Homo sapiens: one gene and its partners. The protein of the gene in region 1 purifies or fractionates together with the protein of each later gene. This does not show direct contact. Each region holds a gene or a part of one and is shown on either strand. Other genes may lie near its edges.

Region 1 (5,529 bases):
CTCTATACCCATTAAATAACCGCCCCCCATTTCCCTCTGCTAGCTACCATTCTACTTTCTGTTTCTATGAATATGACTCCTCTAGGTGTCTCATATCAGTACAATTGTATAGGATTTGTCTTTTTGTGACTGGAATATACCAAAATTTCCTTCCTTTTTGAAACTGGATAGTATTTCATTGTATGGATAGACCACATTTTGCTTAATCAATTATTTGTCAATGTGCACTTGGTGAGGCAATCACATTTCACTTGTTCTGAGCCTTCACGTAGCCTGGGAAAATGGCCCCTGGTCAATGGCCCCGCAAACTCTCTTAGCAGAACTTAACTTGTAGACTCCATCACAAACAAACAGTGGGCCTATGTGTGCTTGGTCCCTCACGACTCAGGGTCTGCCCCCACAAGATTACATTCTTTTGGTGTTCACGGTGAGAGCTGCTCCAGATCTCTCTGTCACACAGAAGAGACACGGAACATTCTCAGCCCCGGGCCTCTGAGGCTGCTGGCTCTATCCTTTGCCAAGATTTATGCCCCAAGTCTCCTTGAGCTGCTGTTGTCTTTTGAGTGGTGCTTTTTCTTTTTTTTCTCCTTCTGCCTTTTTTTTTTTTTTGAGATGGAATCTCGCTCTTGTCGCCTCCTGGCTGGAGTGCAGTGGCGTGATCTCGGCTCACTGCAATCTCCGCCTCCCGGGTTCAAGCGATTCTCCTGCCTCAGCCTCCTGAGTAGCTGGGATTACAGACGCCCACCACCATGCCTGGCTATTTTTTTTTTTTTTTTGTATTTTTAGTAGAGATGGGGTTTCACCATGTTGGCCAGGCTGATCTTGAACTCCTGACCTCAGGTGATCTGCCTGCCTTGGCCTCCCAAAGTGCTGCGATTACAGGCATAAGCCACCATCCCTGGCCTTTTTCATTTTTATTTTTTGAGACAGGGTCTTGCTCTGTTGCCCAGGTTGGAATGCAGTGGCATGATCATGGCTCACTGCAGCCTCAGCAACCTCCTCCCCACGAGCCCAAGCCATCCTCCCTCCTCAGCTTCCTGGCCTCCTGAGTAGCTGGAACTACAGGCACATGCCACCATTCCTGGCTAATTTTTGATATTTTTTTGTAGAGATGGAGTTTTTCCATGTTGGTCAGGCTAGTCTCAAACTCCTGGGCTCAAGTGATCCCAAAGTGCTGGGATCACAGGCGTGAACCACTGCTGCTGGTTGAGTGGTGTTTTTTCTTAGCTCTGCTGCAGAACCCCACTCTCTGGAGGCCTCTTGCTCCTGGTGGGGAAAGCTTCTTGGTTTACCCCTGAGACCTCCATGTGCAGTGGGCATTTAATTCAAATTGGAGATCTGGCTGCAATCCAGTCCACACTCCTCTCTCCAAACCAAGCACCCTGGCCAGGGATGCAGCCACAAAGAGGGAAGGGCATCTTCTAATTTGTACCAAGGAGCTGTATGTGCCAGCAGCAGCCTTGCTGGGGCCCCAGGGTTCAATGTTGCTATCCTGTTTCCAGCCTTCCCTGTTTCTCCTGAGATGCTCAAGCTGAGAGCCATTGCTCCAGACCCAGGACTGCCTAAACATTGCCTGGGCTCAGTTCTCCCTAGACCCTCACGAGCCGTCACCTGTAATTACAGCTGGCTTCCATGGGGGTGGTGTGGGCAGCCTCCTATCTACTGTATTTGAGAGACTTTCCCAAAAGGACCTCAAGCCCTCCCGTCTCAAGTCTTCCTTTTTCCCAGGGGTCCTCTTTTCACATGAGGATGGCCTGGGATCACAGCCCCTGAGGACCCTGGCAGGATAACTGGGCAGCCCTCTGCCTTTTTCTGACCCGGAGAGCCCGGAGCCTCTGGCAATGTGGTTGCAGAGGTGATGACGACAGACAGTATGCAGCGCTCTGTGTTTCCAGCAGAGGCCAGCTGGCCTGTTCCCATCTGAGTTTAAGGTTCTGCGACTGTCTAGTCTCCCCTGCTGCTCTGGCGGACAGAGGTTGGCCGGCACACACAGTGTGGGGTGGGGTGGGGACAGGAGGTGTTTGTGCTCCTCAGCTGGCCCTCGGCTCACCTACCGCATCTGGGATCTTGCAGATTATGCCAAGGAGCACCTGGCTCAGCTTCAGGAGAAAGCTGAGCAGATCGCAGGCCGCATGCTCCGCTTCTCCGTCTTCTACCGCAACCATCACAAGGAGTACTTCCAGCATGCCAGGTATGGGCGCGGGCTCCCGGCTGGACCCGCCGGGCCTCTCCTCCCTCCCAGCCCTTCCTGCTCCTGTCCTGGCTGTCTGAGGTCACCCCCACCCTCGTGGCTGCCAGTCCCTCCTCTAGGGTTGACATGTCCTGACGTCACCAGGCTGGCTCTGAAGAGACTGCTACTTTGGGGATTGGGCTCAGGGAAGATCAAGGGCTCTGGGGACAGGGCCTTCTGCAAGAGTGTTGTACTAATGAGCCTGGGAGAATGAGGTCTGGGTTTGCTCCCACTCTGGGACAGTTCCTTTCACAGGGGTCTACCACCACAGGTCTCTCCGATTCAGGCCCTGGGGCCAAAGGGAAGGTGGCAGGGAGTGCACAAAATGAGTGTTCTGATCACAAAGGGTTCGAGGAAGCACCCAGCTCGTCGGTTTTCAAACTGGGTGCTCCCTCCAGGGAGACATGTCAGTGAACCCCTTAGAATGCTGCCATGGGGTTGGGGGGACCAGAGGTTGAGGCTTGGTGGGCCCCACACCTGACCTCCAGTCAGAGTAGCCTCAATTTTATTTGCCTGTGACCCTTCCACGTATAATTTCTTTTGGGGATAAAAAGAGAGTTGCTGCAGTCCAAAAGTGTTTGAAAATTGGTGATCTGATCCAACACCCTCAGCCTACAGAAGAGGAGCCTGAGGCCCAGAGGGAAGCACTTGTTCATTCGAGCCAGGGAGTCACTTGTTACTGAGGACAGCCAGGACCAGGCAATGTGAGGCAGGACCAGGAGTACCCACCATCCCCGGGCCTGCTGGCAAGTGCTCCAAGGCCGCATCCTTCTGAGGCTCAGCCAGGGCAAGCAGCTGCTCTGCCTTTTTTTTTTTTTTTTTTTTTGAGATGGCGTCTTCTCTGTCACCCAGGCTGGAGTGCAGGGGCGCGATCTCTGCTCACTACAACCTCTGCCTTCTGGGTTAAAATGATTCTCCTGCCTCAGCCTCTTGAGTAGCTGGGACCACAGGTATGCGCCACCATGCCCGGCTAATTTTTGTATTTTTAATGAAGTGGGGTTTCACCATGTTGGCCAGGCTGGTCTCAAACTCCTGACCTCAGGTGATCCGCCCACCTCGGCCTCCCAAGGTCCTGGGATTACAGGCATGAGCCACCACGCCCGGCCTCTGTCTGTCTTTATCCTTACAGTCAGGGCAGTTTTAACCTCAGGGCAGTGAGGACCTTGGGAGTCTTTGGGGTTTGTATTAAAGAAGCAAGGCCTGCTTGGTGGCTCAAGCCTGTAATCCTACCACGTTGGGAGGCCGAGATGGGATCTCTTGACCCCAAGAGTTCAAGACTAGCCTGAGCAACATAGTGAGACCCCAGCCTCTGCAAAAAATTTAAAGAATTAGCCGGGTGTGGATTGCTTGAGCCCAGGAGTTCGAGCTTGCAGTGAGCTGTGATTGCACCACTGCACTCCAGCCTGGAAAGCAAGTCAGTGGCCCAGTTTGGGCTCCTTTATCAGCGAGAGTGGGAGAGATAGAGAGCACTCATGGGTGCCAGGCACCTTACTTGGTGCCAGGATGTAAAGATAAAGGCACAGTTCACTCTTTTGAGAACCTCAGAATCCAGTCAGAGAGACAGTATGGAAAGATTTCATGTAAAAAGTACGTGTAATTGTTGAGCACAGTTCAGTGTCCTGGCCAGGTGAAGTGGCTCACACCTGCAATCCTAGCACTTTGGGAGGCTGAAGCAGGAGGATCACTTGAGGCCAGGAGTTCAAGTCCAGCCTGGGCAACATAGTGAGAAGATTGGGTGTCCTGCACATAGTAGGAAGCCAAAAATTTGTCAAGTGCAGGTGTCTGCTGTTCCTGGGAGGTTTTAGAGGGGAGCAGACGCTTGACTGAAGCTTGAAGGCTAATTAGAAGTTTGCCAAGCCAGACGGAGGAAGGTGGAGAGGGCAGTCAGTGCAGCAGAGGGAAGAGTCCTGCATAGGGGTCACGGAGGCAGGAGACTGTGTGTGCAGGGGGTGGGTAAGTGGATGGGGTGGCAGGAGGTGGGGAGTGGCAAGGAGACCACAGAGATCAGATCATGAGCCGCCGTGTTTTTCACACACACCCCATCAAAGGGTTTCAAGCTGGGGAGTGACAGCTTCATATCTCTTCTCTGAGAAGGAGTGGGCTGGTTGAATCCCTCTCCAGGGCCCTCCCTGCTCTTGCATTCTGGAATGTTCTATTTGCGACTAGTGGAGGCGGCTGGGGGAGGGCTGGGAGCTGGGCTGGCTTCCTCCCTCCTCGACCACACGCAGCAGCCAAGCCTCAGCCCGGCTCACCAGCCACATCTTCTCTTCCCTTTGGTGTGTCTCCCTGGGGTGGGCAGGACCCACTGCGGGAACATGCTGCAGCCTTACCTGAAGGACAACAGTGGCAGCCACGGCTCCCCCACCAGCGGTATGCTCCACGGGGTCTTCTTCAGCTGCAACACGGAGTTCAACACGGGCCAGCCCCCGCAGGACTCCCCCTACGGCCGCTGGCGCTTCCAGATCCCAGCTCAGCGCCTCTTCAATCCCAGCACCAACCTCTACTTTGCGGACTTCTACTGCATGTACACGGCCTACCACTACGCCATCCTGGTGCTGGCGCCCAAAGGCTCCCTGGGGGACCGCTTCTGCCGCGACCGCCTGCCCCTCCTGGACATTGCTTGCAACAAGTTCCTGACCTGCAGCGTGGAGGATGGGGAGCTGGTCTTCCGCCACGCCCAGGACCTCATCCTGGAGATCATCTACACTGAGCCCGTCGACCTGTCCCTGGGCACCCTGGGGGAGATCAGTGGGCACCAGCTCATGAGTCTGTCTACTGCCGATGCCAAGAAGGACCCCAGCTGCAAGACCTGCAACATCAGCGTGGGCCGCTAGGGACTCCTGGGGAGCTGGGGGGCGAGGGAGAGATGAGCGGAAGGTGGAGGTGGGTAGCCCAGGTTCAGGGAGCTGGCTTTCTCTCTCCTGCCCCCCTGCTCCCTCCACTCTGCCCAGCTGCCCTCCCCTCGCCCCTTGGCATTGGAGGCAACAGACGGTGGTCCTCTTGGTAAGTGTGGCCCACACCCAGCCTGGTGGACATGGAAAGGCTTCTCAGCCTCTGTAGTTGGCAGCTGGGCTGGACTTCTGGAGAACTTCCCCTTTCCTCTGGTTTCCTTGTCCTACTGTTCTTTGCCTCGTCCAGGTCTCTATCTCCCAAAGACCTGCCCACCTCCTGGGCTCTCCCAGGGAAGCCCCTCTGGGCCAAAGCCCATGGGTAGCTTGGCTGCCTCCAGAAGAGATGCAGAGAGCTGTGGGGCGATCTTTCTTAGTCCCACTCACCCCACTCAGGGCCAACCACAGAAT
Region 2 (4,362 bases), on another chromosome or scaffold:
AGTCAGAAATACTGGCCACTTTGCATGGCTAATGTCGGGTAATAAGGGACTCAAAAGGATTTTCTTAAAAAGCGTTCAGCTTAATTGAAAGTGGATATCCAAGTTATAAGTATATTTAAAAGACCTTTATGTTTTTCTCTTCTTAGATCTTATTTTGCTGGGTAAAGGTTTTTTTCTCAGTCAACTGAATTCTTTTTCTCCATTTTGTCTTGCCCCTCTTAATGCATGCATGAGGGGCCCTAAGATAATTTCTGATGGCCTGAGACTCCTTGGGAAAAATAGAAAAGTCTCCATGGATTCCATTTTGGGAGAGACCTTTGTTTTCCTAATGGAGCCCCAGGAATTAGAGGTGGATGGATCCCTCTCAAAATCTGTTTTTGTCTTCTAGCTATACCTGTTTACTAGGCCCTAGAAACTACATGCTTTCCTAGCCCTGCTCTTAAAGGGCCCCACTGAGAGGCTAATTGTCCAGTTACGAAATTGGTGAACAGAAAATCTTACAGCTACTGGATCTTCTTCTGGCTGTGTAGTTATGTATGTGTTGTGTGTGTGATCTCTATAAACAAGAGTTCTAATTAATTGGCCTAAAGGAAAATAAGCACTTAGATCAAATATTTTTTAAAGGAAAGAAGAGCTGTGGTACCTTTTAGTTCACATGACTTTAATCTTTGAGAAATAAAAACAGCCTTAAAAATTATTGGTAAAATGCAGATGTCATCAAAATGTACATTTTTGCCTAGGGTTAAAGGACTGTTTTGAATTAGATAAGATAAAGCTAAATGTGTAAACAAGTAGTGGAAGGATTGTAAAAATTGATCTTGCAAAAAAAAATTCCTTGTGTGAACATACTGATTAAATTCAAAAGGGTATTATATGGCTTTTCCATAAATTGAGCATTGAAATAAAAGCACAACAAGGTTCTCTTAAGGCACCAATCTGCTCTTTAGCTAAATCTGTAAAGGGTTATAAAAGGTTTTTGCTTTTTAAAATTTCTGAGTCATCATTTTGACAAAATAAATAACTTACGGTAATCTGGAATTCTATTTCATAAAATCAAATGTTTTAAACCTCTAACATATTCAACAGGCTTCCCAAAATCAAACTTCAGTTTCAAAATTGTCTTTCCTGACACCTGGCTTTTGGATGCTACAGAGGGCCCCTGACACATCCAGAAGAGAGGTAAACAGGATTACCTGACATGTTTAGGTACATGGGATTGCCAAAATAATGTTTAATCTTCTTCAGGTTATATTTTAGGGAATAATATTAATATATGTTCCAAAATTGTAAAGGATTCCTAAAATTCTAGTGTCTGGCCATAAAAATGGAATCTGTGGTGCCTTTTCTGTTTTTTCCGAGGAGTCCCAGGCCATCAGAAATTATCTTAGGGCCCCATCATGAGTATATGCTATCAATCACAATTAAGGTTGTTATGTTAAGTTATTATAAACCACAGAGATAACCAAATTTATTTGTCAATTCTGTTTCTGACTCTAACTACCCTGGACATTTTGTTATTCACAGACAATTGTTGTCTTGTTTTCATCCTCTTCAAAAGATGGTTTATAATCAGCCATAGAACTTTCATAGGTGCTCTCAAATGCAGGTTTCTGATAACTTTGGAGATTGAGACATTAGAATAAAGAAAAAACAAACAGGACTCATGAAGAGCTGAAATGTTCATGAATATCAAGCAAAACAAGAGTTAACTGGATGGACTTAATGAATACAAAACTGAAGTAATCTTTTTGACTTTCGCTTGGACCATTGCCAATCCTTGCTTTGTTTTTCAGAGTGAAGGAAACTTATTTTGAACTATTTACAGCCTTTAATAATTGAGTAAGGTATACTCCTGTGAACAAAATTTGGAGCATGTTTGTCTCTCTCTCTCTGCCTGGCTTCTCCAGAATTTGGAAACTAGTTGTGAGTATACTTAACTTATGACAATATATTTGTTTGCATCAGTGCAATAAGATTCCATTTTCTTTGCAACAGGACACAACTGAAGACACTAGTTGTTTTACCAAGGCCTTTGACTGGAAGGGTATGCTTCCTTTTAAGGAGTCAAGCTTGACTTGCAGAACTGATAAAAGCTCCTTGGGAAAACTGGCCTCATACCTTGCCTACACAGTCCCTGTACAGGGTTCCTAATCTGCGGTGAGTAAGAAGTGTCACTTTTTAACAGGCCCAGGAACCCTATGCTCTTGGGACCTCAAGAAGAGAGGAGTTTACCCAACTCACAGGTATTTGAGGGTAAAAACCCACAGCTGGGTTCAGCTTTAGAAAGTCCTATCTGAGATTCCTTGTGGAATAGAGTTCCATCAAAGCCAATCTAAAAGCCCTCTGTAAAAATAAGTATTCTTGCTGCACTTCATGCAAAGAATCAAGCCAAGTATAAGACCAAAGTCTATTTTGCAAACAACTCAGTCCTATCATGGTTTGTTTTTAAGAAAACTGAGGACTGGAGAGAGATAAATTATGTTTAAAAACTTATCATCATTAAATTCTAGACCCACTAGTTGTTTTCAAGTTTTTTGCCTAGTTCGTTTAAAAACTAACCCTGCTTATGCCTGTGATCCAACCAGAGATCTCCAACTACAGCCCAGAAGGAACAAAGGGGGATGGGTAATGTAAAAATCTGAATCAATATTCTAGTTCTAAGCAATTATCCTGCAAATCCTGCTAGGTGGTGGGAATAAATACAGTGCCTGTCATCCAGAGGTTTCCTTTTTGGGAAAGTAAGACCAAGGGAGCTAACCAAAGCCAAGCTCCATGCACCCAAATCTTAGCAAACATAACTATAGCCACCAGTTATCTGGGTGTGTCACAGGGCATCCTTTTCTTTCCCTTGGAGGAGGACCCCTTTCACAGCTTCACCTTAGCATTCAGCTTATGATAAGGAGTCCATACAACCCCTGAGACATATTTTTGGTCCCAAACTCAATTCCCAACTTCAGGTCAAAGCCCTAAGAAAAAAAAAACTGGATCTGAGGGATCCAGAAGCAGACGGTAACAGAAGTTAAAAAGCACAGCACAGGTGAGCATGACTAACTCCTGCCGATTAAGCCAAGCCTCCTGTTTCATGGATAAACATCATGCTAGTATCCACGACATAAATGAGGTCTAGAGAACTTGAAGGCTACTGACAGCAGGGGAGATAGGGCGTACGTGGGTAAGCCCTGTTAACATGGGGGAAAGCCGCTTTGACATTCATGGGTGGCACCCTTTGATGATCACCCAGGTCTTGGGGATATAAGGACAGAAGAAATGAAAAGGGGCACGTCACTTTCTCCCTCCCTCACCTACCCTGGGTATTCACTAGGAAGAGAAAGGAACCAGGGACACCTGCTCCCCTCTTTCTTGATGGATTGCCATTCATCTTCAGTCTGTGGCCTTTTTGAATACATCCTGAACCCCTGGGACTCCTTTGAAAAAAACACCTTCTTTTTTCCTTTTCCCCTTGTGTCCTCTCTTCACAGATAGGTAATTGTGTCTCCTTACTACAGCACACTCCCCTTGGATCCATCCTCTAAACTGCGAAAAGTTAATTTCCCAAACCTTAAACTTGAGAATAGCTTAGGACTGGGCTTGGGGGAAGGGAACCTCGAAGACTGACAAGCCAGCAAAAGGGTAAAAATTTTTTTTAACTTTTAACAATCAGGCTTTTGGCCTCCCTCTCCCTGTGCAAACCAGTAAAAGGCCTCGGGATTTTCGAGCATGACTTCTGGCATGACTTCTGTCCTTACCCCATCCTTGTTTTGTTTTGATACATGTTTTCTAATAACTCAGTTTGTCTCTTCTCGCCTTCAGGTCATCAAACTCCAGTCGTGCAACTGGAGCCTCAGATAATGGTCCCTTTTGCCAGGAACCTTTAGATTGGCCTCTTAGGGAAATCTGACTGCCATTTTCCCAACACAGCACCCCCTGTCAGCAGGAAGCAGTTAAGATTGGTCTTTGTCCTTATCTTTATTCTAAGGGCAGTTAGATGTACTTCTTTAGAGTGGGGAATGATAGAGACAGGAGACAGCCAAACGCCTGCCGGGTCACTGAAAAATTCTGTCCCTTAACACATGCGCAGTAAGGAAAATAAATCAATGTGGAGTGGCTCAGACTAAAGGCCCACATGCGCCCTGGGAGAATGGAGTGGAGCCACTGGGAATTTGCACCTTATGCAGGGGGAGAAGCCTGGCCTCTTCAGCTGGTGTATCACACTTTTTTTCACTGAGAGCTTCCTTTTAATAAATTCCACTCTCCTCATCTTTCGATGTGTCCGCGTGCCTGATTTTTCCTGGTCATGCAACACGAACTTGGATTTTAGCTGAGCTAAGGAGCAAAAAATCTTGCATCAGTGGTTTTTTTTTT
Region 3 (3,407 bases), on another chromosome or scaffold:
TGGTGTCTATTCTTACCAGATGTATAAAAATGTGAGAGGCCTTGGAGAATCATATCCCAAGAATCAGCAGTTTCTTTTACTGGACCTTTAAGATTGAGACTTGTAAGGTCCTGATGCAGTGACTTGTAAGGTCACTTTGTCTCTCTTGTGAATGTTACTGTTTTTTCTCTTCTGAGGTTATGACCAAAGAATCCTCAAGGCGAGTGATCCTTCAGGTTTGAGACAGCCACATGCAGGAAGACAGGACTTGTAGAGTGTTGGGGCCAAGTGTGTGGTTAGAATCCTTGGGGTGGGGAAAGAGTTTGTTCTAGACTCCAGTGTAGTCCTTGTGGCTACCAGGTCTGACGTGCCAAGGACACGGGAAAGCTGGGAGTGAGGATACTCATAGTCATAGCACCTTACACCAGAATAAAAGTTTTTTTTTTCTTTTTAAGTGATGAGAGAATGGCTAGTCTGATTTTGCCAACATGGGCTGCTATTTGCTTAAGACCTTGATGGTATAAGGAGTGAAGATGCAATCAGGGTAAAAGGCGGTCTGGAGTTGTGGTGTGCTGGCAAACCAGCCCTCTGGGGCAAAAAATTAAAAAGCCTTGATATGGAGTGTTTGCTGATACCTATGATGTAAATATTCCCGCCATGGCCACTTTCCAGCTACCAGCAAGGCATCCTGGCACCAGGGATTGGGAGGAGATGGCATAGTCCTAAGAGTCAGCCTTGGGCATTGGGCCATGTGGGACTGGGCAGTGGGGTATCTGGTCTGGTTCTAAGTGCTGTGATGAAGCAGTAGCAGCTGTAATAGCTGGCATTTCCCGTGTGCTCATCACATAGCAGATGTTATTCCAAGGACTGTATGTTCTTTATCATCCCTCATTTGATAGACAAGACAACTGAGACACAAAAGGGTGAAATAAACAGTAAGTACTCCATCCCAGGCCATCTCATCCAGAGGGTGCTGTCTTGACCACTCTACTACTCTGGTTGATGGGAGGCAGTAAATTGTCCATCAGTATACTTCTTCATCAAAGCTACATAGTCAAAAAGCCACAGGAGGCTGTGAGGAGAAGCTCACTGCTGCTCTGTTGAAGTCTGTATTGGTTTCCTATGGCCACTCTTAACAAATTACCACAACCTCAGTGGCTTAAAACAACACAAATATATCATTCTGTCATCCTGGACACGAGCCAAAGGTTGTCGGCAGAAGCGAATTGCTTCCAGAGGTGCTATAGGGTGCTGCCCATTCCTTGCCCCTTTTCCGCTTCTAGAGGCTGCCCATTTTCCTTGGCTTGTGGCTGCATCATTCTGGCTGCTTCTATTGTCACACCTCCTCTCTGACCCTCCCTGCCTCCTTGTAAGGACACTTGGGATTACGCCCATCCAGATAATCTAGAATAATCTCCCATTTTGTGATTCTTAATAACATCTGCAAAGCCTCTTTTACCTTGCAGAATAAGATATTCACAGGTTCTGGTGAGGAGGACAGGGACATCTCTGAAGGGGAGGGAAGCAGGAGATAGGGTCTGGAGGCATGGAATTGGCTTCCTAAGGCCAATTCAGGCTGACTTCCTAGAACTAAGTCAAAAGGAAAACCCCAACTTTCCACGCTCAAGTAACAAAAGGACCAGAGGCTACTCCCTTTGCAACCTCCCCACCCCCAGCCCCTTTTCTGCATGGCAGGTGAAAAATTGAAAGTATCGCTAATTGATCCCCTCCCACAACCAATCAGACTGGTCTTAGGCCAAGTCTTCATTTGCCTAGGAGTATAACTTTGTAACTTCAGCCTCTGATTGGGCGTTTTACACAACCAGTCAGATGTTTGTATAGGGTGGTGTAACTTTGTAACTTTGCTTCAGCCTCTGATTGGTCCCCTCCCACAACCAATCAAACTGATCATGGACCTCTGCTTCATTTACATAGGGTGTACACCAAGTAACCAATGGGAAACCTCTAGAGGGTATTTAAATCCCAGAAAATTCTGTAACCGGGTTCTTGAGCTGCTTGGGCTGCTCCCACCCTGTGGAGCGTACTTTCGTTTTTCAATAAATCTCTTTTGTTGCTTCATTCTTTACTTGCTTTGTGCGTTTTGTCCATTTCTTTATCAAGACGCCAAGAACCTGGACACCCTCCACCGGTAACAGGAGGAGCATTAGTCAGCCTACCACAGACTCCAACGAACGTTTTTTGAGAGGAAATGAAAGAATATTCCTAAGTTATTGGGTGCCTTTTCTTCAGGAATCCCTGAAAGTGGGGGTTTGCAATTTTCCCTGGATTGAAAACAGAAATGCTTCCTACACAAACATGATTGAGACCTTGTACTCTAGGTGTAAAAAAACAGAGTAGGTCATACTCTGTGGGTTATGGTCAGAGAGATCTGGTTAGAAGTTCCCAGGTAGGCGACAGCCCTAGATGTGTGACACTTCTAGGAGAATCTCTGGCTATGTGGATACGTCCAGGTGTGTAAGGCAGCCTCAGGGACTGCCACCACTTGGTCACATACATGTCCCTCCAACTAATCCTAGCTCTCAAGGACAGGTGGTTCTGGGCCCTGTGTTGCCCATGAGACTTGGTCCACGGCAAGCCTGTGACGGAGTGAAAGTGAGGGGACACCCAATTTGAAAACTCGGCAGGAAGCCAGACTCCATGACATACAAATAGATCAAAGTGAATCGGCTCCGTTGTTTGGGGAAATACCTGAGGTTTGTTGTTTCGTGCCAAGAAGATTAACAACACGGACACACGTGGGTGGGTTAAGGAGCAGAAAGTTTAACAGGCAGAAAAAAGAGAACAGCTCCCCCATGCAGAGGGAGGAGGACTCCGAATGGATCTCCCCATTCCTGGCGGGAAGCAGACTGATATATAGAGGAGGGGGTTTGAAGAGGTGGTATTTGATTTACATAGAGCCCAAGGGATTGGTTTGACCAGGTGTGCCATTTACATAGCCCTCGAAGAAACTGGCCATTCCACCTTGATCTTTTATTATGCAGATAGGGTTTTTTACTTGGCCAGAGCCTTGACACCTGCACACATGGCAACAAACAGAAGGGAGGCGAAATCTTCCATATTGGATGCACCTGTCTTCCAGGTGCAGCTGCCGGCATTTATCTGTGCAAGCTTCTAGCTTGCTTATTTATGCTTGCAGCTTGACTTTTCAGGCTGCTTTCTGTTGGAAAAGAAATGGTTTTGGGGGCTGCTTTTTATTAAAAGAAAAGCCTTACCAAGGACTCCTGTACCCTATCTGCCTAAATTTTTTTTAACTACTATATTAAAAGGTCTGTAAGTGGGAGCTGGCCCTAAAAGTAGGTTGTAGAGATTATTTGGATGTGCCAACAAGCTTCATCTGCAGCTTGGACTGTCTCCATTGGAAGGCCTCTGGCAGATTTTGTAAAAAGTTATATAACAATTTTACTATA

The links.
Region 2: the proteins of PHYHIP (region 1) and KIF15 purify together in Homo sapiens (affinity purification with mass spectrometry; 3 studies listed by BioGRID and IntAct, with this or other methods). This does not show direct contact.
Region 3: the proteins of PHYHIP (region 1) and LIMD1 purify together in Homo sapiens (affinity purification with mass spectrometry; 3 studies listed by BioGRID and IntAct, with this or other methods). This does not show direct contact.

What each region holds. Positions count from the first base shown.
Region 1 is NC_000008.11:22,220,888-22,226,416, reverse strand, and holds part of PHYHIP (phytanoyl-CoA hydroxylase-interacting protein), read left to right. Parts: intron 1-1,200; exon of another isoform or gene 1,201-1,975; intron 1,976-2,073; coding exon 2,074-2,191; intron 2,192-4,529; coding exon 4,530-5,064; 3' UTR 5,065-5,529. UniProt on the Homo sapiens protein: Its interaction with PHYH suggests a role in the development of the central system.
Region 2 is NC_000003.12:44,768,294-44,772,655, reverse strand, and holds part of KIF15 (kinesin-like protein KIF15), read right to left. Parts: intron 1-4,362. UniProt on the Homo sapiens protein: Plus-end directed kinesin-like motor enzyme involved in mitotic spindle assembly.
Region 3 is NC_000003.12:45,681,751-45,685,157, forward strand, and holds part of LIMD1 (LIM domain-containing protein 1), read left to right. Parts: 3' UTR 1-3,407. UniProt on the Homo sapiens protein: Adapter or scaffold protein which participates in the assembly of numerous protein complexes and is involved in several cellular processes such as cell fate determination, cytoskeletal organization, repression of gene transcription, cell-cell adhesion, cell differentiation, proliferation and migration.